4 linked regions of the Homo sapiens genome follow. The protein of the gene in region 1 interacts with the protein of each later gene in a biochemical or structural test. Each region holds a gene or a part of one and is shown on either strand. Other genes may lie near its edges. The genes, in order: UBE2G1, ZRANB1, UBA1 and AMFR.

The links.
Region 2: the proteins of UBE2G1 (region 1) and ZRANB1 form a complex in vitro, tested with the Homo sapiens proteins (one study listed by BioGRID).
Region 3: of the proteins of UBE2G1 (region 1) and UBA1, one has a biochemical effect on the other in vitro, tested with the Homo sapiens proteins (3 studies listed by BioGRID, with this or other methods).
Region 4: the proteins of UBE2G1 (region 1) and AMFR form a complex in vitro, tested with the Homo sapiens proteins (7 studies listed by BioGRID, with this or other methods).

Annotation. Positions count from the first base shown.
Region 1 is NC_000017.11:4,268,727-4,272,686, reverse strand, and holds the end of UBE2G1 (ubiquitin-conjugating enzyme E2 G1), read left to right. Parts: intron 1-170; 3' UTR 171-3,428; downstream 3,429-3,960. UniProt on the Homo sapiens protein: Accepts ubiquitin from the E1 complex and catalyzes its covalent attachment to other proteins. In vitro catalyzes 'Lys-48'-, as well as 'Lys-63'-linked polyubiquitination. May be involved in degradation of muscle-specific proteins.
Region 2 is NC_000010.11:124,937,376-124,945,131, forward strand, and holds the start of ZRANB1 (ubiquitin thioesterase ZRANB1), read left to right. Parts: upstream 1-4,747; 5' UTR 4,748-5,081; coding exon of another isoform or gene 5,082-5,118; coding exon 5,119-5,932; intron 5,933-7,756. UniProt on the Homo sapiens protein: Ubiquitin thioesterase, which specifically hydrolyzes 'Lys-29'-linked and 'Lys-33'-linked diubiquitin. Also cleaves 'Lys-63'-linked chains, but with 40-fold less efficiency compared to 'Lys-29'-linked ones.
Region 3 is NC_000023.11:47,196,795-47,203,837, forward strand, and holds part of UBA1 (ubiquitin-like modifier-activating enzyme 1), read left to right. Parts: exon of another isoform or gene 1-196; coding exon of another isoform or gene 197-230; exon of another isoform or gene 231-1,408; coding exon of another isoform or gene 1,409-1,561; intron 1,562-1,596; exon of another isoform or gene 1,597-1,662; intron 1,663-2,008; coding exon 2,009-2,125; intron 2,126-2,253; coding exon 2,254-2,312; intron 2,313-2,414; coding exon 2,415-2,583; intron 2,584-2,685; coding exon 2,686-2,820; intron 2,821-4,099; coding exon 4,100-4,206; intron 4,207-4,481; coding exon 4,482-4,572; intron 4,573-4,683; coding exon 4,684-4,816; intron 4,817-5,361; coding exon 5,362-5,459; intron 5,460-5,563; coding exon 5,564-5,710; intron 5,711-5,843; coding exon 5,844-6,020; intron 6,021-6,148; coding exon 6,149-6,253; intron 6,254-6,339; coding exon 6,340-6,420; intron 6,421-6,746; coding exon 6,747-6,902; intron 6,903-7,043. UniProt on the Homo sapiens protein: Catalyzes the first step in ubiquitin conjugation to mark cellular proteins for degradation through the ubiquitin-proteasome system.
Region 4 is NC_000016.10:56,401,546-56,408,545, reverse strand, and holds part of AMFR (E3 ubiquitin-protein ligase AMFR), read left to right. Parts: intron 1-429; coding exon 430-582; intron 583-3,301; coding exon 3,302-3,342; intron 3,343-3,504; coding exon 3,505-3,637; intron 3,638-5,427; coding exon 5,428-5,561; intron 5,562-6,702; coding exon 6,703-6,813; intron 6,814-7,000. UniProt on the Homo sapiens protein: E3 ubiquitin-protein ligase that mediates the polyubiquitination of lysine and cysteine residues on target proteins, such as CD3D, CYP3A4, CFTR, INSIG1, SOAT2/ACAT2 and APOB for proteasomal degradation.

The sequences.
Region 1 (3,960 bases):
TTAAATATACCCACGTGGCTGTGAGCTACCATAATAGATAGAAACAAAGTGAGCTCAGAATGAAATTAAGGATTTGTTGTCAAATAAATCTAATATGGATAAAACCTACTTACAGTTAATTCTTTTGTAATTGATGAATTGACTATATAATGTTGTTTTTGTTGTTGTAGGTCTCCAATTGAGAAACATGGCACTGTTTTTCCTGCACTCTACCCACCTATTGCTGGACTTCTGTTGTACAAGTTGGCAAACACTGGCTGGAACTGGGCTGCAATAAAACATGCCAGTTATCAATGCTGACAAGAGCCTAACAAGTGCCAACTTACAGATGATTACGCATTTTGAATTCTAATGAACTGTTTTAACCTTCAGGAAGAATTGTAAAGACCTGTACATAGCACAACATGATCCGGATAATATATATACTGTTCATGTACATCCACAAATACACCTTGTACCAAATAATGCTTTCTTGTAGTAGAATAAGAATCGTGTAAATTCTAAGAGATTTTAGCAGGTTTTCTTTCCTATTCATTGTTTCTTATCAGTTTAAAAGGATTCCTTTAAGCATGTCAGATGAAAAGCAATTAGGATTAAAAGTTTCCATTTAATTTCCCTTAAACCCTTGAGGCTTCATTAAACTCTTTTCACTTACTAAACTTTTGTATCTTCTTTGTTTTGACACACTCCCCTTTGCTTTTATCTCTTACCTGCCAGAATGTTCTCAAATGATTTAGTTCAAATACTGAAATACTTAATGAGCAATTACTTGATTTTTAATGATGACTTCGAAGGAGTCATCACTAGGTGCTTTGTCCTTTTTGTATTCTAGTTGCACCCACCTCTTGGATTGGATATAGCAATAACATTTATTGGCCGTTGTGAGCTCTTGATCCCAGTCATTACCCCTGAGAACTAAAAATAGATGGTTCTTAATTCAACTTACTGAAAATTTCCCCAAACAATAGCAAATCTGACTTTTCCCTCTTCAGTTGCCTGGTATTAAGGTTGGATAAATGAAGCATGCACAGCTACAGGCTTTCTACTTAACTTCTGGGTTTGCTATTACAAATCCTATTTACTCTCATACCCTTCTCCTTAGTCCTTCATATTTCTCTGCCTCTATTCTTCTATACTGCAGATTTTTCTCACCTATTGTACAAAGAAATTGCGATGTATATTTTCATGTAATTTGATTTTGGAATTCTGTCACCTTATGTAGTGAGTTCTTCCAAAATATAATTTTTTTTCAATAATTGTCAAGTTGTTGGCTTTTATTGTATTGAATGAAGGCTATAATACTGAGTGCCAGAGAAGTGGTTTAGGAAAATCTCAGGTTGATTCCTTATGCAAATGAACTTTTAATACTTGAAAATCACATGGCCATGGCAGTATATGTATTTGGTTCTATCTAGATTCTTCTGTGAATCTAAAAGCATTACAGGGGTAAATGCTTTGCTATTTGACGTATAGATCCCGTCACTAACAATAGTACACTTGGATGTGATTAATGTTTGAGCTTCAATATATTTCATATCATACAGTTTTCTAAAACAACTTCAGCAAATGGTAAAATGAACATGTGCAGTGTTAAAGGCAGGCCTTAGGCTCCTTCATGTTTGTTGTGAGGTTGTGTGTGGGAAGTAGTCTTTGGCTTATAAGGGATAGAACTTGAGACAGTAGCAGATGGGACATGGTGTTTGATTGTGAGAATCAGTGAGAATTCGTGCATCTCTGCTCTGTGGGGTTTGGAGAAATGCTTTGGCAGAAGAGTGAAAGAACTCCTGCCAAGAGCCCAGACCTCTACAAACGTTGTATGTCCTTTTTTAAGCAGAAATAAAATGGTTGAGGATGTAGTCACAGTAGAGAGTGATTTTTTTCTAAGTCCCTGTCCTCTACTCTGAAGCGTTATAAAAACCTGTAAACATTATACAAACCCACAAACCTTATAGAAACTCGTAAGTGTGTTGTGACTGGAAATTGATTCATTAGAACCCAGTTTTCTTTAAGAACTTTGTGACTTGGTTTTTTTTTTCCTTTTCCAAAGACTGTAAAAATAGTTGCCCCAAAATGTCAGCACTGCACACCCTCCAGGGACTTGGAATACAATCCTTTTTACTTTTTTTTTTTTTTTTTTAAGAAACTGGGTCTCTCTGTCACCCAGGCTGGAGTGCAGTGGCAACGATCATAGCTAACTGCAGCTTTGACCTCCTGGGCTCAAGTGATCCTCCTGCCTCAGCCTCCTGAGTAGCTAGGACTACAGGTGTATGCCACCATGCCTGGCTAATACAAAAAAATTCTTTTAAGAGATGGGATCCCTCCCTTTTAAAATCAGAACTTGTTCACATGGTGGTTGCTTGTGGCAAAACGGAGTTCAAATTTTGCTCTCCTATTGCTATAATTCTGCTAGCAATCTGTTGAGGTGAAACTTGGGATCTGACTCTTCAGCAAGCAGCAAATGACCTAGTAACTCAGGGACAACTATTTTTGAACTTTAAGTGCCACTTTAATGCAGTTAGTTTGATAAAACCATGTGGGTTTTTTTTTTAGGGCTAGCTCTACGGGAGTGGAAGTGAGAGCCAGGCATGAGTGCGTCTCCACATGCTTTTCCACCTGCCCTGAGTGTGTTACATACTGAAACAGGCCTACATAGATGTTACAACTTCCCTTCCTCTGTCGGAGATGTCATCTGTGCCTTTCTCAGTGTTCATCTGATAATGTAAATTTAAATGCCTCTACATTTGATACGAAACCCACATTCAGGTGACACTGAACGAGGTGGCTTTTGTCCCACCAGTGCCTCATCAGTGTGAGGCGATTCCTCTCTGCTTTAGGAAAATGATTTTTCCCCCTAAACTTGTGCCAACCATCAACAACATCTCCATAGATCTTATGGATTGTAGAACTGTTGGCTGTTTCCTAAATTTATTCCAAGTTCTCGTAGAGGCATATAGATTTCAGTCTGTGCTTGTATGGGATAGATGATCTGAGTGGCTTTCTGGCCTCTTTTTTGAGTTTAAAATCCATATGAGGTTGACGTGTCATACTAAGGTAACATGTTTGTGAGGTTATTCCACTAGTACTGTGATCACGTGGGTGTCAGTATCTTTAACGGCCTTCATTCTTGGTTGTGAGATTTTATTTGATATGCCCACTCACCCTCGACGAATCTGCCCGCTTTGGGCTGTGGTGCCTGTGTATCTTTGCCCGTCTGGTCTCCAGTTGGTGGAATTACCTTTTTTGTACTGCCACTTCTCAGCATCTTTGAAATTTGACATAATGTTGCTTCATTTCAGTTTTTTTAGTTCTGTAATTTGTTGATTGTATTTAACTATGTGAGTTCTGTTGTGATGTTTACTGTATTGTAAAGCACCTCATTCATGTGATGAGTGCTCTATAAATCAATAAATGATGACTTAGAGGCTGTATCACGAGCTATTTTGGTTTTAGGATGCAGGTCTCAAAAGCAAGTTGTGGGACTCTTTCTGTATAAACAGCACATGATACCAAAGGAACCACAGGGAAACCTTGTATTTTACAGACTTTAAAGAAGGAACCAGAGAAGTTAACTTGCCTTCCAACCTGATAATGATGCTCTTTAGATTTCCAGTACGTGGCCATGCACCGTTTTAACTCAGAGTTTGTGTGCACTGTGATTTATAACCTTCGAGTGAGCACTTATTAGAACATTATTGGGGATTTTGTCTTTGGCCTAAACTGGCTCTACCATAAAGGTAAGCTGAAAGGTGAGGAACCCAGACTCAAATGTGAACTGGAAGAGACTGCAGGCACCATCTCAGTCACCACCTCTGTCCTCTAAACAGACGGGAAAATGCGCCAATACCTGCCCAGGGGTCATTTAGTAAGTTACTGACAAAAGAGGCAAGACTGAGTAGAGAACCTTCTTTACAAGATACACAAGATATCAACATCCAGCTTTTTATCCTGAATCCTTACAAA
Region 2 (7,756 bases), on another chromosome or scaffold:
GGGTTTCGCCATGTTGACCAGGCTGGTCTTGAACTCCTGACCTCAAGTGATCCACCCGCCTCGGCCTCCCAAAGTGCTGGGATTATAGGCATCAGCCATTGCGCCCCACCGAGAATTATTTCATTTCTTCAGTTCTCTATGATTGTTTAGTAGGTGGTTGGGGAAATTTGTAGTGTAGCTACAATTTTGAGGAATTGACTTCAATATAAATATAATTCTTGTACAGTGTTTAGTAATGCTTCACAAATATTAAACATGACAGTATAAAAAATGTTCCATTATGTAAGTCCCTTTCCCCCGCCTGCTATTAGTACATATACCATATTTCTGCACTTTTATTATCTGAATTGGAAAGTATATAATTAAAAACAGTTACGAATTTAGTACTTGTCAATTTAGTAGTAGTAAATGGTTGATATATTTAGAGACATTATTCATTCTACAGGCAGAGCTTGATGCACAAATGGATTCCTGGTCTCCTTGGTCCACAGGATGGGAACTGTTGGTATTGCATTTGAACCAAGGAATATTTGTCTTAAGAGTAGCAGTTTTGTCCCGTTCTCCTTAAAGAAGGCCTAGATTATGTTGATTTTATTGTGGTTTTATTTTACCAATTAATTGAAGTTTGAGTCCTTGGATAGAATTTGCAAATCTGCTTTGCATGCAAAATTAAACTTGTAAACTAAATTTACTTGGGCGTATGAATATATTTAATACTTAAAGTGATATTTGGTAAGTTTTATTTCAAGGTAGAGTATTAACTTTTAGAGCTGGCTACTTTGGAAATAATTTTATGTACTTTTTGGAATGTTTTGACATCTGGAAAAAGTGTACTCTGTTAATTTCTTTGTAATACTGCAAAAAAACACATAGTTCAGTTGATGTTATCCTTACTGTTCAGTGCTGTTTACTAATTACCACAGGTAGAAATGGCTGTCTCAGATAATCTTCAATGAATTTTTTCTTTTCTTTTTTTTTTTTGAGACAAAGTCTCACTCTGAGTGCAATGGTGTGATCATGGCTCACTGCAGCCTCAAGTCCCCTGGGCTGAAGCGATCCTCCTGCCTCAGCCTCCTGAGTAGCTGGGACTACAGGCATGTGCCACCACCCTGGGCTAATTTTTGTATTTTTTGAAGAGATGTGGTTTTGCCATGTTGCCCAGGCTGGTCTCGAACTCTTGGATTCAAGCAATCCACCTACCTAGGCCTCCTGTGCTGGGATTACAGGCGTGAGCACCTAGCCACTCTTCAATGAATTTTACCTTGCAGTTACTAAACAACATTCCTGCAATGTTTCAAGTTCTCTCAGAGTGAACACTGTACATCATTACGTTTTTTTTTTTTTTTCCTTGAGACAGCCTTGCTCTGTCATCCCAGGCTGAAGCACAGTAGCACAATCATAACTCACTGTAGTCTTGAACTCCTGTACTCAAATGATACTCCTTCCTTGGCCTCCTGAGTAGCTGGGACTATAGGCACAGGCGACTGCACCTGGCTAATTAAAAAAAAGTTTTTTTTTTGGTCGGGCATAGTGGCTCGCGCCTGTAATGCCAGCTCTTTGGGACGCTGAGGCAGGTGGATCACTTGAGGCCAGGAGTTTGAGACCAGCCTGGCCAACACAGTGAAACTCCGTCTCTACTAAAAATAAAAAAATTGGCTGGGCATGGTGGGATGCGCCTGTGGTCCCAGCTACTCTGGAGGCTGAGGCAGGAGATTCACTTGAACCTGGGAGTGAAGGCTGCAGTGAGCCAAGATTGTGCCACTGCACTCCAGCTTGGGTGACAAAGTGAGACTGTCTCAACAACAACAAAAATCGTGTTTTTTTTTTTTTTTCCTTTTTTGTAGTGATGGAGTCTTGCTGTGTTGCCCAGGTTGGTCTTGAATCCTGGACTCAAGTGATCCTCCCACCTCATTCTCCCAAAGTGCTGGGATTAAAGACTTGAGCCACTGTGCTTATTATCTAATATAAGGCACATCTCAAAACTCTTGAGCTTGGTTTTGGTATTGCTTAGTTACCTGGATTTTCAGAGGTTGGTGGGCTAATTAGGCAGCTGTCTGTCCATTATTTTACCAGGCATTTATGACAGTGATTATTTTTTATGACAGTTTTTTGTTTGTTTTTTAAATCAGCCTGGACATTTAAATATATTGTGCCAGCATATTAGTTACATGAAGATTAGCTAAGATAACATAAGGTTACGGGCTGTTTAGTTGCACCTACAAACATAGTAAGACTTATCAAAACAAGTATGGATTTTGAATGTGAATATTTTAAAAGATATATTGAAATTACTTAGAGTAGCCCTGGATATATGTTCATTATGGCATTTATCTTGTTAATAAGTTTCTACATGCTCATTTTAATTTCCAGTAGCATGAGCAAGTAACTTATATTTCATTCCCGAGAAACTAAAAGAATCTGCCTAAAGAGTATGAAAATTGCCATTAAATCTGTATTGTCTACTTTCTGGATGGTTATATCATTATAGTTCTCTGCTCTTCCACACATTTTTGGGCTGCTATCAGTTTGTAAGTAATCATTATACAAACTAAATTTAAAAATTTAAACAAGATAATTTTATATTACTTGGATCAGGGAAAAAAATGCAGTTGCTGAAGGTGGTTTCATAGCTAAATATAAGCAATTATTTTGCTTTTTCTACTTTTTTGGATTTTATCATCTTTTCCCTTTTAGTAATAGAGTAATACAGGTAGGAATTAACTTAGCACTGCCAAATTAATAGTAATATTAGAACTGTGTACACAGCACAGGGTTAAGGTTATATAGAAAAATGTCTCATCCATGTTTAATTTGGCTGACCAGCCCAGTTGATTAGCCAATTTTATTGTTTTGTTAAATTAAAATTCTAAATATAGTTGTCCATTGTTAAAATAAGTGAGTAGGGTTAAAATAGAGAATTGATAAAAATAAAGCCTTAAAAATCTTTTAGCTAAAGTAGCAGGCTTCAAGTGAAATTCAGTTTTGGTCTCCTTTACAGGAATAGCTATTCAGTCAGACAGAACCACTTATCACGTTTTGCAGTATCTCCTGAGGAAGTCAGAATTCTGAGCCAGCATGAAGACGGAATCTTGTCTTTGATCTGATTTGCAAACCGTACTTTTATTCTAATCATGTGCAAGGTGGAGGTTATAGCGTGGGAACTAAAATCTTAGTAAGTGTGGTTTTTATTTTAGCTATTAAGTAGTATACTTTCTTATAGTGATTTTTTTTTCTTCTTAGCAGAGTTCACACTATAAATGGTGTATGGACTTGGCAGGCAGGAACATAATACAGTATACTTCAAAAGTGAAAGATTTAGGCCAGGCGTGGTGGTTCATGCCTGTAATCCTAGCACTTTGGGAGGTCGAGGTGGGTGGATCACGAGGTCAGGAGTTCATCAAGAGAAGCCCGGCCAAGATGCTGAAACCCTATCTCTACTAAAAATACAAAAATTAGCCGGGCATGGTGGCATGCACCTGTAATCTCGGCTACTTGGGAGGCTGAGGCAGGAGAATCGCTTGAACCTGGGAGGTGGAGGTTGCAGTGAGCTTAGATTGCACCACTCCACTGCATTCCAGCCTGGGCAAAACATAGCAAGACTCCATCTCAAAAAAACAAAAATGAAAACAACAACAACAAAAAAACAAACAAACAAAAGATTTAACCCTCTAGGTTCAGGAAAAATCCCTGAGAAAGAGAGAGCAAAGCTTCTATACTCTGCCTAGGATTTCTTTCTCTTTCCGGGTGAAAAATAGGTGTTGGGATGATACTGAGTTGATAAAAGTATTTAGGAAAAGTGGCCAGTGTCTAAATTCAAGCCATTAAAAAAAAAAAAATTAAATTTGTTATGTAAGTTGCTTCATTTATGAATTAGTTGCCATTAAATTATGAAGTCTTTCTTCATTATAGTGTAGTGTTAGCCCATTGTTGAATCCTAGAAATCTTTTAAGTAGTGTGAATATCTTTTAAATATGAATTGGATTTTTTGGGGGGCAGGGGATGGAGTCTCACTCTGTCACCCAGGCTAGAGTGCAGTGGTGCGATCTTAGCTCACTGCAACCTCTGCCTGCCGGGTTCAAGCAGTTCTCTGCCTCAGCCTCCTGAGTAGCTGGGATTACAGGCACCTACCACCATGCACGGCTAATTTTTGTATTTTTATAGAGACGGGGCTTTACCATCTTGGCCAGGCTGGTCTTGAACTCCTGACCTTGTGATCTACCCGCCTCAGCCTCCCAAAATGCTGGGATTATAGGCTTGAGCTACTGCCCCCGGCCATGAATTAGATTTTGAGTATATTTTAAATATTCAAAATTTAAAATATTTTAATTATGAACATTCACAATTATATTGGAATGATTATGCTACTGGTTATTTCAGTGACCTTCCACAGATTTAATTTTCCCCAGTACAGTCTTCTTTTTTTTACTCCAGATAGAACTAGATTTTGAGGCTACAGATTATCAAGGAACTACCTATTTCATAATGTTACTTTGTTAATTGTAGCCATTACTTCTCAACATGTTTCTTTACTACCTGTGCTAATTAAGAACAGTGGATAATTAGCATTTTAAGTTGCTTTTCTCCCTTAGCGAGAATGATAAAATAGACGTTGCTTGATCTTCTGAATTCATGAATCATAATCTGTGTTCATAATTTGAGAATGGTTATGTGTTTAAGCTATTTTTTAGTTTGTGTTGTTTCCTCTACCTTTGTCTCTTTAAACTATTGGTTACTTTTCTAAATTGATGTGATGGCCTCCCTGAAATTAAACATTTCTATTAGTGGCTTCCCGTTAATCTCATCCTTCTTAGATCAAACCTCGTTATATCTCCTGCCTATCTCTTTTGCATTCCAAAGTTCAGTTTTATTAAATCCCAGGGTCTAAGATTTTTTCTTTGAGAATTTATCTCCAGTGTTTCTATGGAAATTAAAAAAGAAAATTAGGATAATTCAATGTCGAAATGTTGCATGCATCTTTTGAGAAATTTATATTTTGTAGGTTGAAGGACTTGCTTTTTGGGCAGCGTATTTTTGGAGGTGGAATGTAGTTATTTTAATAACCATGTCCTAATTATTTATAGCTTCCTGCCTGACACAGCTCACTTCAAGAAGTGCACAATGTCAGAACGTGGAATTAAGTGGGCTTGTGAATATTGTACGTATGAAAACTGGCCATCTGCAATCAAGTGTACTATGTGTCGTGCCCAAAGACCTAGTGGAACAATTATTACAGAAGATCCATTTAAAAGTGGTTCAAGTGATGTTGGTAGAGATTGGGATCCTTCCAGCACCGAAGGAGGAAGTAGTCCTTTGATATGTCCAGACTCTAGTGCAAGACCAAGGGTGAAATCTTCGTATAGCATGGAAAATGCAAATAAGTGGTCATGCCACATGTGTACATATTTGAACTGGCCAAGAGCAATCAGATGTACCCAGTGCTTATCCCAACGTAGGACCAGGAGTCCTACAGAATCTCCTCAGTCCTCAGGATCTGGCTCAAGACCAGTTGCTTTTTCTGTTGATCCTTGTGAGGAATACAATGATAGAAATAAACTGAACACTAGGACACAGCACTGGACTTGCTCTGTTTGCACATATGAAAACTGGGCCAAGGCTAAAAGATGTGTTGTTTGTGATCATCCCAGACCTAATAACATTGAAGCAATAGAATTGGCAGAGACTGAAGAGGCTTCTTCAATAATAAATGAGCAAGACAGAGCTCGATGGAGGGGAAGTTGCAGTAGTGGTAATAGCCAAAGGAGATCACCTCCTGCTACGAAGCGGGACTCTGAAGTGAAAATGGATTTTCAGAGGATTGAATTGGCTGGTGCTGTGGGAAGCAAGGAGGAACTTGAAGTAGACTTTAAAAAACTAAAGCAAATTAAAAACAGGATGAAAAAGACTGATTGGCTCTTCCTCAATGCTTGTGTGGGTAAGTTTCTGTATTCTGCATTTTTTGCGTGGGATGGGAAAAGGTAGTAAAAATGATATGAAAAGAGCTGGGTGCGCTGACACACGTTTGTGGTCTTAGCCACTTGCTTGAAACCAGGAGTTTGAGGCTGTAGTATGCCATGATCGGTCTGTGAATAGCACTTGCACTCCAGCTTGGGTAACATAGTGAGACTGTGTCTCCACGCACATGCAAAAATGTGAGTGTGTGTGTGTGTGTGTATATATATATGCGCAAAGTCACTAGCATTTGATTCATTCAGCACGATAGCTGTACTTTCAAGTATGCATACATAAAAATTTGTGTATTTGTGATCTTGTCGTAACTTTGTACTAAATTGCCCACAATTAATTGTGTTCATGTCTCTCCATTACTGGGGGCAGTGGAAACGTTTAAGTTAAAGCAAAGTTTTTACACATCAGCAGTAAAATATATACCTGGACTTTAAAACTGCTACTCTGTTTATTGTAACAAGATGTAACTGAGGAACACCAGCTGCTGTTTCCAAGTATTTGTAAACAGTGTGAGCATCTTGTGATGATAGAAGCTTTAGTCAGATGTTAAAAATACCACAAAAATGTGTGACTCCAAGAAGTTGAACAAACATATTGACCTTGAAAATACTGGTGTTAATTTAACATGAATGTCATGTAGTAAATGTTTGCAAACTTTATGGAACTGATTACATGTAGCCAGCTGATTCCATACTTCAAGTTATGGTTCATATGTATTGTGACATTTTCCTCAGGAAATGCTGTTAAAGGACAGAGACATAGGAGAGCAGAGTTTTTCTTCAGTTCTTGACCTTGTGAGTTAATTGTGATGTAATTCACAAAAGCAGTGACTTGAGTCTTCAGTATTTTTTTTTTGAGTAGATTAGATGTTTGATTTTTATTAAATTATTTGGATGGGCTGCTTGCTTTGACATTTGGTCTTATGAGGGAAATTTTGAATGATTACTAAGTTTAAACTTTGTGTGGAACAATAGCTAAGCTTTAACTATACCTTAGCTGTATGTTTTCCCTCAGTACCAATTTCTTTTATTTATCCCTCTGGGTACAGCCCAAGAATATGGAAAGTTTAGGTGTATGAACCTGTGAGTCCTAGGAATTGATTTCCAAGAAATCGTGAGTTTTAAAATTAAATTATATATATCATTCCCCCCCCCCCCCCGCCCCAAGATGGGATCTCACTCTGTCACCCAGGCTAGAGGGCAGTGATGCAATCATGGCTCACTGCAGCCTCAACCTCCTGGGTTCAAGTGACCTGCCATCTCAGCCTCCCCAGTAGCTGGGACTCCCCATTAGCATGTACCACTATGCCCTGCTATTGTTTTAAATTATTATTTGTAAAGATGGGGGTCTACCTATGTTGCCCAGGATGGTCTTGAACTCCTGGGCTCAAGCGATTCTCCCACCTCAGCCTCCTAAAGTGTTGGGATTATAGGCATAATTTGCTGTGCCCAGCTGAAATCCTGAGTTTTCAATTTTAGCTTTGTTCTGGCAAAAAAGAATATCCCAGCAGATGAATCCTTCTGACCTCCAGACTTAGTAGGCACTTAGCAAGTCTTAGTTCTAGTTTCCTCCCATCCTGAGGATGAGGGGATGAAAACATACCGGGCTATCTTCTGTCTGTGTTGTCCCATTTTATTCCTCTGATTTTTCTGCTCCAAATTGAGGGGCAACATACAGTATGATTGTCAGTTAAAAAAATTTAAACAGGAGATACAAAAGGGTTTTGTTATTAGTTTCCTTAGAGATCAAATTGATTTAACATAAAAATTCACCGTTTTGCAAGTGAACAACT
Region 3 (7,043 bases), on another chromosome or scaffold:
AGTGAGGAAATGGCATGTCCCAAACAAACTGACCAATGACAAGGCAAGGAGATAACTAAGTAATAGAGGCCACTACACGTGCCCAGGGAGGAACTCACATCCTCAGGTCAGTGAGTTCTGACCACAGACCTTGGCTTCTTTAACCCTGCCAGCAGCCCCTTGAAGACAGTTTCATTTGTCCCAGCTTTTGGAGAAAATGAGGCTCAGAGGAAATGAGATCTCTACCCCAGGTCAGTCAGAGAGTCAGTAAATGGAAAATATGGTTCACCTTTGTCTCTACTAACTCACCAAGCCTCTTGCTACCCAGGTTGGCTCTTAGCATTCTAAGCAATTCACCTGGCTATCTCAGGGGCTCCAGCCAGCCTGCTGCCTCCCCTCATCTCCCATTCCTTAGCCCTGTGGACTGGGCCCTGAGCCCAGGGGCATTTGGCAAACAGTCCCCCACCAGCTGCATGCCTCTGGGCGAGTGAATGGGGTTCTCTAAGCCTTTCTTTTCCCATTTGTGATTTGGGCATAGGGTTATCTGGGTCATGGGGATTGTTAAGATTAGACAAAGCCCTTTCCTCTTTGATTGACACACAGTATGCTCTTGGTAGATAGTAGGGAGCTCTTGTCATTGTGGTTGGTGCTAGTGACAAGTGCCAAGATGGAATCTTAGGTACATTGGGATACTTAGTGTCATAAAAGTCTCAGTGTGGGAGGACTTGTGTGAACAGAAGACTCAGTGCCTAGAGGAGCACTTGGGGTGAGGGGAAGTGACGCTGGGTCCTCCCATCTCCAGCATGTGGACCCAGTCACCCCCACCACCAGATTTCACTTCCACAGCAGGCTTTATTGTTCTGTCTCTGGGACCTAGCAGGTGACCCTGGGCAAGTTACTTCTCATTTGTCCGGCAAGGACACTAAACTCTGCCTTGCTGGGTCAGGGTCATGGAGGGGATGAAACGTGATAACACGAGGAAGCAGCCTGGGCTTCAGAGTCAGCAGATCCTGGTCTGGTCCCAGCTCAGTGTGTGGGAACCTTGGTCACCGAACGTCCCTGAGTGAATTTTTTTCCATCACTTTAAAGTTGGGGGTATTATTGATAGCAGTCCAAACCCCACAGGAGTACCCTGAGGACAGAGTGAGACGAGGTTTAGAGAAGTGCTTACTATGGCATCTGGCACAAGGAGGACTCCTGATCAATCTAATACTCATTTATCATTGTGGTTAACCTGTTTAAGGGACTCCGCATGCAGATGAGGCTTGGGATGTGTTTGTTTTCTATCTTTTTGCAACCTCTTTTATTGGTCTGTGTCGGTTTTCCCCTCCCAAAGCTGGGGGCAGGGTTGGGCTTTATAAAACTTGAGCCCCTCTGGGGACTGGGTTCTCAGCAAGTTACCGCTCCTGCCATCATGCCACCCTGATGGATGTCCAAGCCTCACTTCCCTCCTGCACTCCCCGCTCCCGCCGCCATCCCTGGGATTAAGGGAGAGGAGAATGGCTGCTTGTTACTGCCTACCTACTCTGTGCCAGGTTCTATGCTCTGTGTTATTTATCATCTCGATAACCCCGTGGGGAAGGTAAGTGGTATTATCACCCCTGTTTCACAGGTGAGAAAACTGAGGCCTGTGGCGGTTAATTATTACTGTTAGTGCGTGGCAGGCTCAAGATTTGAAACCAGGTCTGTCCTGAATCCACATCCTTCCCCTGACCTCGACACAAGTACATTCTTGTCATTCCTTTCACTCCAGGATTGGAGTCTCTCCCTCATTATGCTGGGCTGGGAAGAAGCAAATGGCTTAGTGGTCAGCAGTGTGGATTTGCAAATCAGACCACCTGGGTTCAGATCTTAGGTCTGACAGCTGTGTTACCCTGGGCAAGTCCTCACCTTTCTGTGCCTGTCCCCTCTTTGCTGTAAAATGGGGGTACTAATACTTAAGTCTTCCCTTCCCCCACAGTTGCTACTAACAAACAGAAAAACGGTACCCATGTGCTCCAGGGTCACCTCTGACCTTTTTTTCCTCCAGATGTCCAGCTCGCCGCTGTCCAAGAAACGTCGCGTGTCCGGGCCTGATCCAAAGCCGGGTTCTAACTGCTCCCCTGCCCAGTCCGTGTTGTCCGAAGTGCCCTCGGTGCCAACCAACGTGAGTGTCCTCTCCGTGGAGACTGGCAGACGAGGTGGTGGGTGGGAAAGTCTTTTGTATCACTGTCTGTCTATCCATGCTCCACTCCTGTGTGTCTCCCTAAACTTGTTCTTTTCCTCTATTCCTAGGGAATGGCCAAGAACGGCAGTGAAGCAGACATAGACGAGGGCCTTTACTCCCGGCAGCTGTAAGTGGGGCCAAGGCCGGGCTGAGGGGTGTGGAATGGGACATTGAGAGGATAAGGTTGGGTGGGGCAGGCCCTGACCTAGAGTACCCCCTAACCTGGCAGGTATGTGTTGGGCCATGAGGCAATGAAGCGGCTCCAGACATCCAGTGTCCTGGTATCAGGCCTGCGGGGCCTGGGCGTGGAGATCGCTAAGAACATCATCCTTGGTGGGGTCAAGGCTGTTACCCTACATGACCAGGGCACTGCCCAGTGGGCTGATCTTTCCTCCCAGGTACCTCTTCCTAGCACCCTTCCCCCTTTCCCCCTTCCCGAGGCACCACTGTTCCCGGTGCCACAGCCATTTCATCTTTTTCCCTACTGCACACCCTTACAGTTCTACCTGCGGGAGGAGGACATCGGTAAAAACCGGGCCGAGGTATCACAGCCCCGCCTCGCTGAGCTCAACAGCTATGTGCCTGTCACTGCCTACACTGGACCCCTCGTTGAGGACTTCCTTAGTGGTTTCCAGGTATCTTGGGGGTACTACCCAGCCTTCTGCCCAGTTTTCTCAGAGCCCATCTCTGGTTTATTCAGTAGTGTTCAATATTGATTTAATGGGTCGGCCTGAATGTCAGGTTTTGTGCTGGGGGACTAGAGTATGCAGGCAGCAGTTAGCCCCTGGCCCTGCCTTTTCTTTTCTTCTTTTTTTTTTTTTGAGACGGAGTCTTGCTCTGTCGCCCAAGCTAGAGTGCAGTGGCGCGATCTCGGCTCACTGCAAGCTACACCTCCTGGGTTCACGCCATTCTCCTGCCTCAGCCTCCCGAGTAGCTGGGACTACAGGCGCCTGCCACCACGCCCGGCTAATTTTTTTTTGTATTTTTAGTAGAGACGGGGTTTCACTGTGTTAGCCAGGGTGGTCTCGATCTCCTGACCTTGTGATCCGCCCGCCTCCGCCTCCCAAAGTGCTGGGATTACAGGTGTGAGCCACCGCACCCGGCCTGGCCCCGCCTTTTCAAGTGGGGAAGATGTGTACAGACAGTACAGCATAGTGGTTGTGGGCACAGACTGTAGAGCCATACTGCCTTGCTGCAGGCCTCCAGCCTTGGTAGTGTGACTTCAAGCAGGTTGTTTCATCTCCTGTACCTTTGTTTTCCTGTTTGTAGTCAGTGCGTGGTAGCAGCACTGACTTCATGGACTTTTTGTGAGGGTTAAACACGTGGAATTGCAGCTGGCATATAAGGACTGGATGGGTGTTTGTTAATTAAAAAGTCCAGGCCGGAAAGAGGTGCTCTGGAAGCTGAGAGTTGTCCCTGGAGTATCCCAGGTTGCCAGGGCACTGCAGCTAAATCCTGATGGAGGAGTAGGAGCTCACCCTGGTGGGGAAGGATGGACATTCAGGCAGAGAGCAAAATCCCAAAGATCATGGCGGAGCAGGCGTCGTCTTGAGAATTGGAAGCAGGTGGGTGTGGTAGGAGTGAGCTCAGACTTTGGCTGGAGACAGAGTTTTACTCCAGTGTCTCACAGGGCATGGCAGACAGACAGCAGCGGGTGTTTGTCAAATAAATGAGTCAGCTCTTCTCCAAACTCCCTCCTCCCAGCTACCTCTTCACCTTTCCTGGTATAGTCCAGGGGTTCATTTTCGACCCCCACAGAGTCTGATACACAGTAGGTGCTATGTGTTTGTGAAAGAGGCTGACCCAGCAAAGCCTGGATGTGTTTGCCTTGAGGACTGCCTGAGTCCTCCACACCAGCCCTCCATTTTTTCCCCTTCACCCCAATGCTGGGCCTGAGCCTCCATCTCTCCACAGGTGGTGGTGCTCACCAACACCCCCCTGGAGGACCAGCTGCGAGTGGGTGAGTTCTGTCACAACCGTGGCATCAAGCTGGTGGTGGCAGACACGCGGGGCCTGTTTGGGTGAGTGGCAGCCCACCTCCCTCCCTGTCCCCTTTTCCCCCAACTCCTACCAAGCCCAGGCCAAGACTCTAGGCTCTCCCTGCCCTCATCCCTTCTCAGCTACCCAGGTTTTGGGTTCTGTGTTTTCATCTCTCCCCATGTGGCACAAGTACCATCTTACATCCCAGCAGTGATAGGCTGAGTTTGCTCAGCAAGTTTTCACTACATCTTGAGGGACCCGTGGGACCTGTATGTGCATGGGACACAGGCACCAGCCCTATTGCTTCCCTCTACAGGCAGCTCTTCTGTGACTTTGGAGAGGAAATGATCCTCACAGATTCCAATGGGGAGCAGCCACTCAGTGCTATGGTTTCTATGGTTACCAAGGTAAGGAGACCAGCCCTAGGGTTCCTGGCAGGCAGGTGGGCTGCAGTAGTCCTTCCTGTCTGCTCTTGGTACCCTGGGCCTGTTTCTGAGACTCACTCTTCCTTTAACCAGGACAACCCCGGTGTGGTTACCTGCCTGGATGAGGCCCGACACGGGTTTGAGAGCGGGGACTTTGTCTCCTTTTCAGAAGTACAGGGCATGGTTGAACTCAACGGAAATCAGCCCATGGAGATCAAAGTCCTGGGTGAGCTGCGACCATGGGGGAAGCAGAGGGGAACTAGAAGATATGTTCCTGGGTTCTGGCCGGGGAGTTGAAGGGAGAAGACATGGCCCTTGGTTCAGAGTTGGGAAGACACATCCTGGTGTTTGAGATGAACTACAGACAATCCTGTGGGGTCCAATAAGAGCTGGTGGGCATGGGGGAGAGGTACTGTGTTTGAGCTATTCCTGGGAGAATGTGTCCCTGGTATCTGAGCTGAGTGGGGAAAAAGTCTCTGGTGTTTGAACAGGGCAGATCAGCGGATCTACTTGTGTGTGAGCTGATTTGGATGGGAAGCAGAGAAGGTCTTCCCGTGTAGACTTGGAGCCAGGGACACAGGGTCTCACGGGGTCTGAGCTGAGTCTGGGGCACAGGAGAGATGGTTTCTGATGTCCAAGTGGAGCCTGGAGCTGAGGGAAGACAGCTTCTGATGTCTGAGCTGAGTCGGGGCAGGAGGTTCCTTATCTTGCAGGGGTTGTGGATTTTAGGGAGAATGGGTAGACTGACAGCTCTCTTCCTGCCCTCTGTAGGTCCTTATACCTTTAGCATCTGTGACACCTCCAACTTCTCCGACTACATCCGTGGAGGCATCGTCAGTCAGGTCAAAGTACCTAAGAAGATTAGCTTTGTGAGTGTGTCGATGGGATCAGTGGGCTGTGGGGGGTGGTTCTAGGCATTCCCTAGTTCTCCATTCCTCTCTTCTGGTTCTGATGACCTCTCCCCCCGCCACAGAAATCCTTGGTGGCCTCACTGGCAGAACCTGACTTTGTGGTGACGGACTTCGCCAAGTTTTCTCGCCCTGCCCAGCTGCACATTGGCTTCCAGGCCCTGCACCAGTTCTGTGCTCAGCATGGCCGGCCACCTCGGCCCCGCAATGAGGTGGGTGAGTGGGCGAGCCAGCCAGCGCAGACATGCCTGGCACTGCAGGCTCACCATGCCTCTCTGCGTGTCCACACTCCCTGCCCTCACTGTGGCCTGACATATCCTCTCTTGGTTCTTTCTGGCCCACCAGGAGGATGCAGCAGAACTGGTAGCCTTAGCACAGGCTGTGAATGCTCGAGCCCTGCCAGCAGTGCAGCAAAATAACCTGGACGAGGACCTCATCCGGAAGCTGGCATATGTGGCTGCTGGGGATCTGGCACCCATAAACGCCTTCATTGGGGGCCTGGCTGCCCAGGAAGTCATGAAGGTCAGCACGGGTGGGGAGAGGCAGGATTGGGGTGGGCCAGGTTCCTCCATGACTCTGTCACTTGCTCTCTGTCTGTGTCAGGCCCCTGTTAACCACTGACCACCCCCTCTCTCCCTTCCCCTCTCCAGGCCTGCTCCGGGAAGTTCATGCCCATCATGCAGTGGCTATACTTTGATGCCCTTGAGTGTCTCCCTGAGGACAAAGAGGTCCTCACAGAGGACAAGTGCCTCCAGGTATGTGGGTGGGACCTGTGGGGAGGGCATCATTGGGGACATTTCTGGGGAGGCCTCTCTAACCCTCCTCCCTTTGCATTCCTTAGCGCCAGAACCGTTATGACGGGCAAGTGGCTGTGTTTGGCTCAGACCTGCAAGAGAAGCTGGGCAAGCAGAAGTATTTCCTGGTAAGTGGTCCCCTTGGATGTCTGCTCCCCTCATCTTGGCCTCTGGCCATCACCCCTGGGGCTTCCTTCGGCATCTCAATGCAACCGGTGGCGCATTCTCTTTGCCATTCTCCTTATCTTGAAGGGAAGCCCAGTGCATCCCTCGTTTCCCCTTCTGGTGCCTCCTTCCTCACATGACTGCGTGTCATTTCTTAGAGTCCTGCAACCTGAAGATGTGGTGTTAGCCCCTCTCCCCGTCTCTCAGGGGAGTGAGGGGTGATGGGTAGCTTCACACTAACCTGCATCACCCTGACCAGCCTCTGCCTGTCTTCTTGGTTGCTTCTTAGGTGGGTGCGGGGGCCATTGGCTGTGAGCTGCTCAAGAACTTTGCCATGATTGGGCTGGGCTGCGGGGAGGGTGGAGAAATCATCGTTACAGACATGGACACCATTGAGAAGTCAAATCTGAATCGACAGTTTCTTTTCCGGCCCTGGGATGTCACGGTGAGTAGGGTAGGAGGTTGGGGCTTTGTCGTCTCACTTTCCTCCTTTTTCTTTTTTTTTTTTTTTTTGAGACGGAGTTTCGCTCTTGTTGCCCAGGCTGTAGTGCAGTGGCGTGATCTCTGGCCCACCACAACCTCTGCC
Region 4 (7,000 bases), on another chromosome or scaffold:
CAATTGTGCTAGCCCTAATAGACTAGGAATGCCAATTTCAGAGAGGAGGACTAGAGCAAGATTGAGAAAGAAACAGAACAGAACAGGCACTGTCCTGAGTCCTGTTGAAGGTGAGAGGAGAGAGTTGTATACCCTCGGAACATTGCTTCTAGAGGTTTATAATCCCAGTGCTAGGAGGATCTTTGAGAGTAAGGGATGAAAATATAATGCATATTGTTATACTCAGTAAATTAAATGACACGGATCTCTAAATATCACCTCATGCTCATATTTGGGTTATTGGAGAATAGGACCATATAGTAATGGGATGCTTTTCTGTGCTTAGCACAGAACCCTAAGCAGAGAAGCCAAGATTGACCTTGAATTTCTCAGTGAAGTTTAACACTTCCATGAAGAAGAATGAGCAGTTTCCTACTGTGTGCATTTCAGCTTTCCTTCTCGCCCACCACGCCGATGAGCAGCCACGGTCGAGTCCTGTCCCTGTTGGTTGCCATGCTGCTTTCCTGCTGTGGACTGGCGGCCGTCTGCTCCATCACCGGCTACACCCACGGAATGCACACCTTGGCTTTCATGGCTGCAGAGGTGAGATACTGGATGCAGGACTTGCTCAGATTGTATTTCTGTCTGTTTTCAAGGAAGCTGGATGTTTGACAAGTTATTTTCACCCATGAAATGACAGGTGGATATTTGGTCTTTCATTTTAACAAGCATTTCAGTTCCTTTTTGTGTGTTGGGTACTGGTACTGAATGCTTTTGTGTGGTATTTTATGTAACTCTTTCTTTACGTAGGGTATAAAGATTTTACAAAATAATGAATAAACTGTACTCATCATTTTGAAGGAAAAATCTGGTCTATTCATGAATATTTTAAGATTTAAAAATTTTTCACTCTTTTAAACCTTTCTGAAAATACCAATTTCTGTTCAGTAGAAATAAAAATTCTCCAGCCTGGCCAATATGGTGAAACCCTGTCTCTACTAAAAATACAAAAAAAAAATTAGTTGGGCGTGGTGGCGCACGTCTGTAGTCCCACCTGCTTGGGAAGCTGAGGCAGGAGAATTGCTTGAACCCGGGAGGCGGAGGTTGCAGTGAGCAGACATTGCGCCACTGCACTCCAGCCTGGGTGACAGAGCGAGACTCCATCTCAAAAAAAAAAAGAAATAAAAATTGTTTGTATGTCCTTATATTTAATGGCTATATTTGCCTTTTCTTCAGGCCAAAGGCAAAATACTTTTATCTTACCCATAATTAGTATTATTAATTAAAAAATGAGATATTAGATAAACTGAAGCTAATTGGCTAATATCAAAACACTACATTTGAACTACTCATTGGGAATTTGGTAGAGCAGAGTTAAAGTTTATTTCTGTTTGATAGCATTCATTTTTGAGTACATTTAGTAGTGTAAGTAAAATTAGAAAAGAAACATTTAAATACATAATGTTAATTATCATATTATAATATTGTAATTAAAATACAATAGTCCTAATATAAATAATAAGATATGTAATCTTAGGTGAATACTTCTGTATATGAAAAATATACAACCGTATTTCGTCTTGACAGAAAATCTGTTGAAAAATCCATTTACACTGACTTATTTGCTTTAGATTTATTGCAAAGTTAGAATGATACTTATGTTTGCCTTTTTTTGATTCTCTAACTTTCAACTAATATAATATTATCCAAACTTTGAAAAGGGTATACCTAAAAATAAGCACATTTAACTTAGGCCCGTCAGCTCATACTATAGTATATACTTTTATTTTAGCTTGTTACTGTTTATTCTTTTAAGATAATTTATCATATTACAGATTTGATATTTTAAACTAAATCATTTCTTACATTCATAGTGTTTCTCTCTCCTGTAAAATATTTTTCACTTACAAATGGGAATTTAATCTAAAACATAAATAATGTAATAGTTTTATTCTACTAGATTAAGAGGACTTTTTTTCTTAATGAAAAATATCTTTTTTTTTTTTTTTTTTTTGAGACAAGGTGTCACTCTGTTGCCCGGGCTGGAGTGCAGTTGCTTACTGCAACTTCCACCTTGTGGGCTCAAGTGATCCTCTCATTTCCTTAGTAGCTGGGACCACAGGCATGAACCACCATGCCTGGCTAATTTTTGATTTTTTTGTAGAGATGGGGTTTTGCCATGTTACCAGGCTGGTCTTGAACTCCTGAGATCAAGCAGTCGGCCTGCCTCGACCTCCCAAAGTGCTGGGATTACAGGTGTGAGCCACTGTACCTGGCCGTCAATTTCTGTAATAAAAAAAATACCCTTCAAGACCAGCCTAGCCAACATAGCAAGACCTTGTCTCTACAAAAAAAAAAAAAAAAGCCATGAGAGACTTATTTTGTCCCTCTCCTCTCCTCCCCTCTCCTCTCTCCTCTCCTCTCTCCTCTCCTCTCTCCCCTCTCCCCCCTCCCCTCCCCCCTCTCCCCCTCTCCCCCCTCTCCCCCCTCCCCCTCCTCTCTCTCCCCTCTCCTCCCCTCCCCCCTCCCCTCTCCCCTCTCCCCTTCCACTTCTTCCCCTTCCCCTTCCCTTCTGACAGGGTCTGGGGTCTGGCTCTCTCACCCAGGCTGGAGTGCTGTGGTGCGATCTCTGCTTACTGCAGCCTCCACCTCCCAGGTTCAATCCATCCTTCCACCTCTGCCTCCCAAGTAGCTGGGACTACTGGCACGTGCCACCATGCCCACCTAATTTTTGTATTTTTTGTAGAGATGGGGTTTCACCATGTTGCCCAGGCTGGTTTTGAACTCCTAAGCTTGAGCAATCCTCCTGCCTCGGTCTCCCAAAGTGCTGGGATTAAAGGTGTGATGTGGCTGGCCTTATTTTGCTTTTGATTGCTTTCGTTCTTTTTTCTGCTGGTGGACAAAGGGAGTGCACAAAGCACTAGGGAGAGAGCAGGTCCTCGTGTCTAGGATAGCAGTACCTGAACTATACTTGGAGTTACAGCATCACCCTTCTAAGTAATCAGTGATAGTGACTTAATGCTGTGTGAAATAGAATTGATGGTCAGACTACCAGGGTAAACCTCAAGATTGTAGGGGGATTCCTGGGGGGTAGGTGTAATTGGTTGTCACCTATTAACAGGACTTTTCCTCAATAAAAGTTGGGTTTCTAGGTCATAAAAATATTTTACAGAAATTTGAAGCAGAGAAAATAAAATAATGGGTAAACTTGAACAATCTGCTTTTTAATTGAACTGAGAAATGTTTGTCTTTTATCATTTTATAAAAAGTTTGGCCTGAGCAATGCTACATTTTACTAAAAAGAAAATATCCTTTTTTATAGTCTCTTCTTGTGACAGTGAGGACTGCTCATGTGATTTTACGGTGAGTGAAATTGGGGAGGGAGGTGATGGAGGCCTACTCATACAGTTGATTTTAAGATGTAGCAGGTATGAAATATATAAAAATCGGACTAAATTACAACATGGTTAAACCAAATTCAGTAGTAACAGTAAATTACTAAGGTGTTTTCTCTCTTCATTACAGATACGTAATTCACCTCTGGGACCTCAACCACGAAGGGACGTGGGAAGGAAAGGGGACGTATGTCTATTACACAGACTTTGTCATGGAGCTCACTCTCCTGTCCCTGGACCTCATGCACCATATTCACATGTTGGTAAGTTTCCTCAGAAGGAGCTCTAACAGAGGGCAAGCCTTTCAGAATCAGGAACAGTAATGGTTTCTTCATTAAAAAATGAAACTTTAGAAATAAGATGTGGATGGACTACTTAAAGACTAAAAATGAATGTGGCTGCAAACCCTCCCTCTTTTTGCCACTGGGTGTAAGGCAGTGCCATGGAACTGCTTTGGCTGGTGCCTAACTCAGGAGGTGTTTGCTGTCCTGGGAGACTTAGTTAACTCTGCTGACCAAGTCAATAGATTATTCTTTTAGCATGAAATTAAGGAGCTGCCTTTCCCCATAGTTTCTATGGCTTTAAATATTTAGCAGGTACTTTGTAGGTGGTAATGGGAATTCCTGCAGTGTTAGCTACTTCACAGATTTATACATTTTCCATCTTTGTAATTAAAAAAAGTCTTTACACTTAATTCCTACATTCCTACTACCATCATTGTTTACATTTTACTTTGGTATGTTAGACGTTACGGTGTCGTAGATCTGCTTCATTGGTTGGCCCTTCAGTGATCTAATAATGGTGAGAATTAAAATAGTTGGTGGGCAATTTATTTAAATTATAAGCCTAGCAAGTAGCATTTTAAAATTATTGGGCTAGACGTGGCACATTTCTAAGTCTACTTTTTGAAAGAAACTTTGAAAACATACTTTTTAAAGAAAGTATGTAATTCTTTTTTTTAAAAAAGAGCCTCGGCTGGACGCGGTGGCTCATGCCTGTAATCCCAGCTACTGGGGAGGCTGAGGCAGAGAATTGCTTGAACCTGGGAAATGGAGGTTGCAGTGAGCTGAGATCGCGCCACTGTACTCTATCCTGGGCGACAGGGTGACACTCCGTCCCAAAAAAAAAAAAAAAGCCTCCCTCCCCCCTCAAAAAGGGGACAAACAAATGGCCAAAGATAACTGTTAAGATTTTTTATCTTCTTTTTTTAAATTTTTTTTCCTCATGCTTGTATTTTTTGTATTTAACTGCTTCTTTTTATGTATTTTTTGTATTTATGTATTTTGTATTTTTATGTATTTTGTATTTAACTGATTCTTTTTATGTATTTGAGTACATACATTCATAAATTGAGATCATATTTTAGACATATAGTTCTGTTCTTTAAAAACTAATGTATTATGAACATTTTCCTGTGCTAACATCAGTTCTTCTAAGCCATTTTAATACTTTCAGGATAAAAATATCATCAGATAGCTGTACCATGATTTAATAAACCGCATCCCACAATGGGTTATTTAGATTATATTTGGTTGTTTGCTATTTCACATTTTACATATTTTTTATCATGTATTAGTTTGATAAAGATAGTTATATCTTGCTTTTTTCATTTATCTAGTACTATCTTCCCATAATTGACCTTCAGAACTGTTATATATACAAATATAATAGTAATATGTAGTTATATAGTATAATAAGTGAAATTAATGACTATATAATTTTACATTACATGAGTTTACAACCTAACTGTTCTTCTGGGCATTTTGTTCATTTTCATATTTTCTGTTTTATAATTGCATGGATAGACATCTTTTTGCATAAAGCTTTTCCATTTCTGATGAGTTTCTCAGGAAAGATGACTGGCATTGGAGCACCTAGGCTGACGAGGATGTGCATTGTTTAGAGTAATGAGATAAATCTGTGTATTTCCTTTCTGAAAGACATTGCAGTTCACCATCACCAACAGTGAAGAGCTTCCGCTGCATACTGCGCCTTCATCACTAGCAAGTTCACGTTCGCTTTTACCGTGTGTTTTATTCTCTTTCTCTCTAAGTTATTTGGCAACATCTGGTTATCCATGGCCAGCCTGGTCATCTTTATGCAGCTGCGTTACCTGTTTCATGAGGTGCAACGTCGAATTCGTCGGCACAAGAACTATCTACGTGTGGTTGGAAACATGGAGGCCAGGTAAGGAAGCACAAGTTGATGTTGCCTAAGTTTACTCATTTTAGTTTTTTAATAACAGCAGATCCCAGAGTATGTCAGAATGTATGTTTGTAAACTGCTAATAGAGTGGTGGAGAGGAAAGGCTCTGGAGTCAGACTGCCCGGGTGTGAATCCCCACTTAGGTGCTGTGTGATTTGGGGCAATTTACTTCACCTCTAAATTAGGGATGAAAACAGAACCTTCTGCCTGAACTATTGGGAGAATTTGGTGAGATAATTCATGTACTTAGAATGGTACTGGGCAGATAGTGCTCAGTATTAGGCTCTTATTTGTCATGATTTTATTGTCATTATTATCAAATAGACACTTCATTGGGCTTCTACCCTGTTCATTTCCTGAAAGTGGGTCTCAGTTCTTTGCACATGCATGTTTACACACACATACTTAACCTCATTGAAGGAGGCACTTTTTTGCCAAGCTGGGGCTAAGCCACGCCTGGAGGTGCAAGATTAATGGGTATCCTCTTTGCACCCAGGGGGACAGCTTGGATCTCTTCTTTGTGGCCAGGGACACAGATTGGATCTCTGGGGGCCTTACTCCTCTGATTTGTCCGGATATGGTCTCCGAGGTCTTCACTAACAGCAGCCATTATTATTATTATTATTATTATTTTGGAGATGGAGTCTCACTCACCCAGGCTGGAGTGCAGTGGCACAATCTCAGCTCACTGCAACCTCCGCCTCCCAGGTTGAAGTAAGTCTCCTGCCTCAGCCTCCTGAGTAGCTGGGATTGCAGGCGCCTGTCACCACGCCCGGCTAATTTTTGCATTTTTAGTAGAGACGGGGTTTCACCATGTTGGTTAGGCTGGTCTTGAACTCCTGACCTCATGATCCCCCTACCTCGGCCTCCGAAAGTGCTGGGATTACAGGTATAAGCCACCGCGCTCGGCCTAGCAACCATTATTTAGACAAAGTTCCTGTGCATAAGTTACTCACTTTTGAAAGGGCTTTGAAGGTAAATTATATTTTTGATTATCAAGAATGTTTTGCTGAACATGCTTTCTCTGTAACTGTGTTGTGATACAGGCGCAGTCTATCAAGTGGTGTTTAGTGTGCGTGTGGAACTGACTGAGGTTCCTGCTGGGCTTGTTTTGTTTCCACAGGTTTGCAGTTGCAACTCCAGAGGAGCTGGCTGTCAACAATGACGACTGTGCCATCTGTTGGGACTCCATGCAGGCTGCGCGGAAACTGCCCTGTGGACATCTTTTCCACAAGTAGGAGCTTTGTGAAGGGCCATGTGGGACAGGTGTTCTGTCCAGGGCGTGTGTGTGCTTTGTGTACCCAGGCTCGAGACTCATCCTAGTGGAGGAGTGGGGACATTACCTCAGCCTGGCCTTGCTGCTGGCACTGAGTGTTCTGGGAAGCTCTTGGGTATCCTTCTTTGTTCCTTAGCCTCTTCCC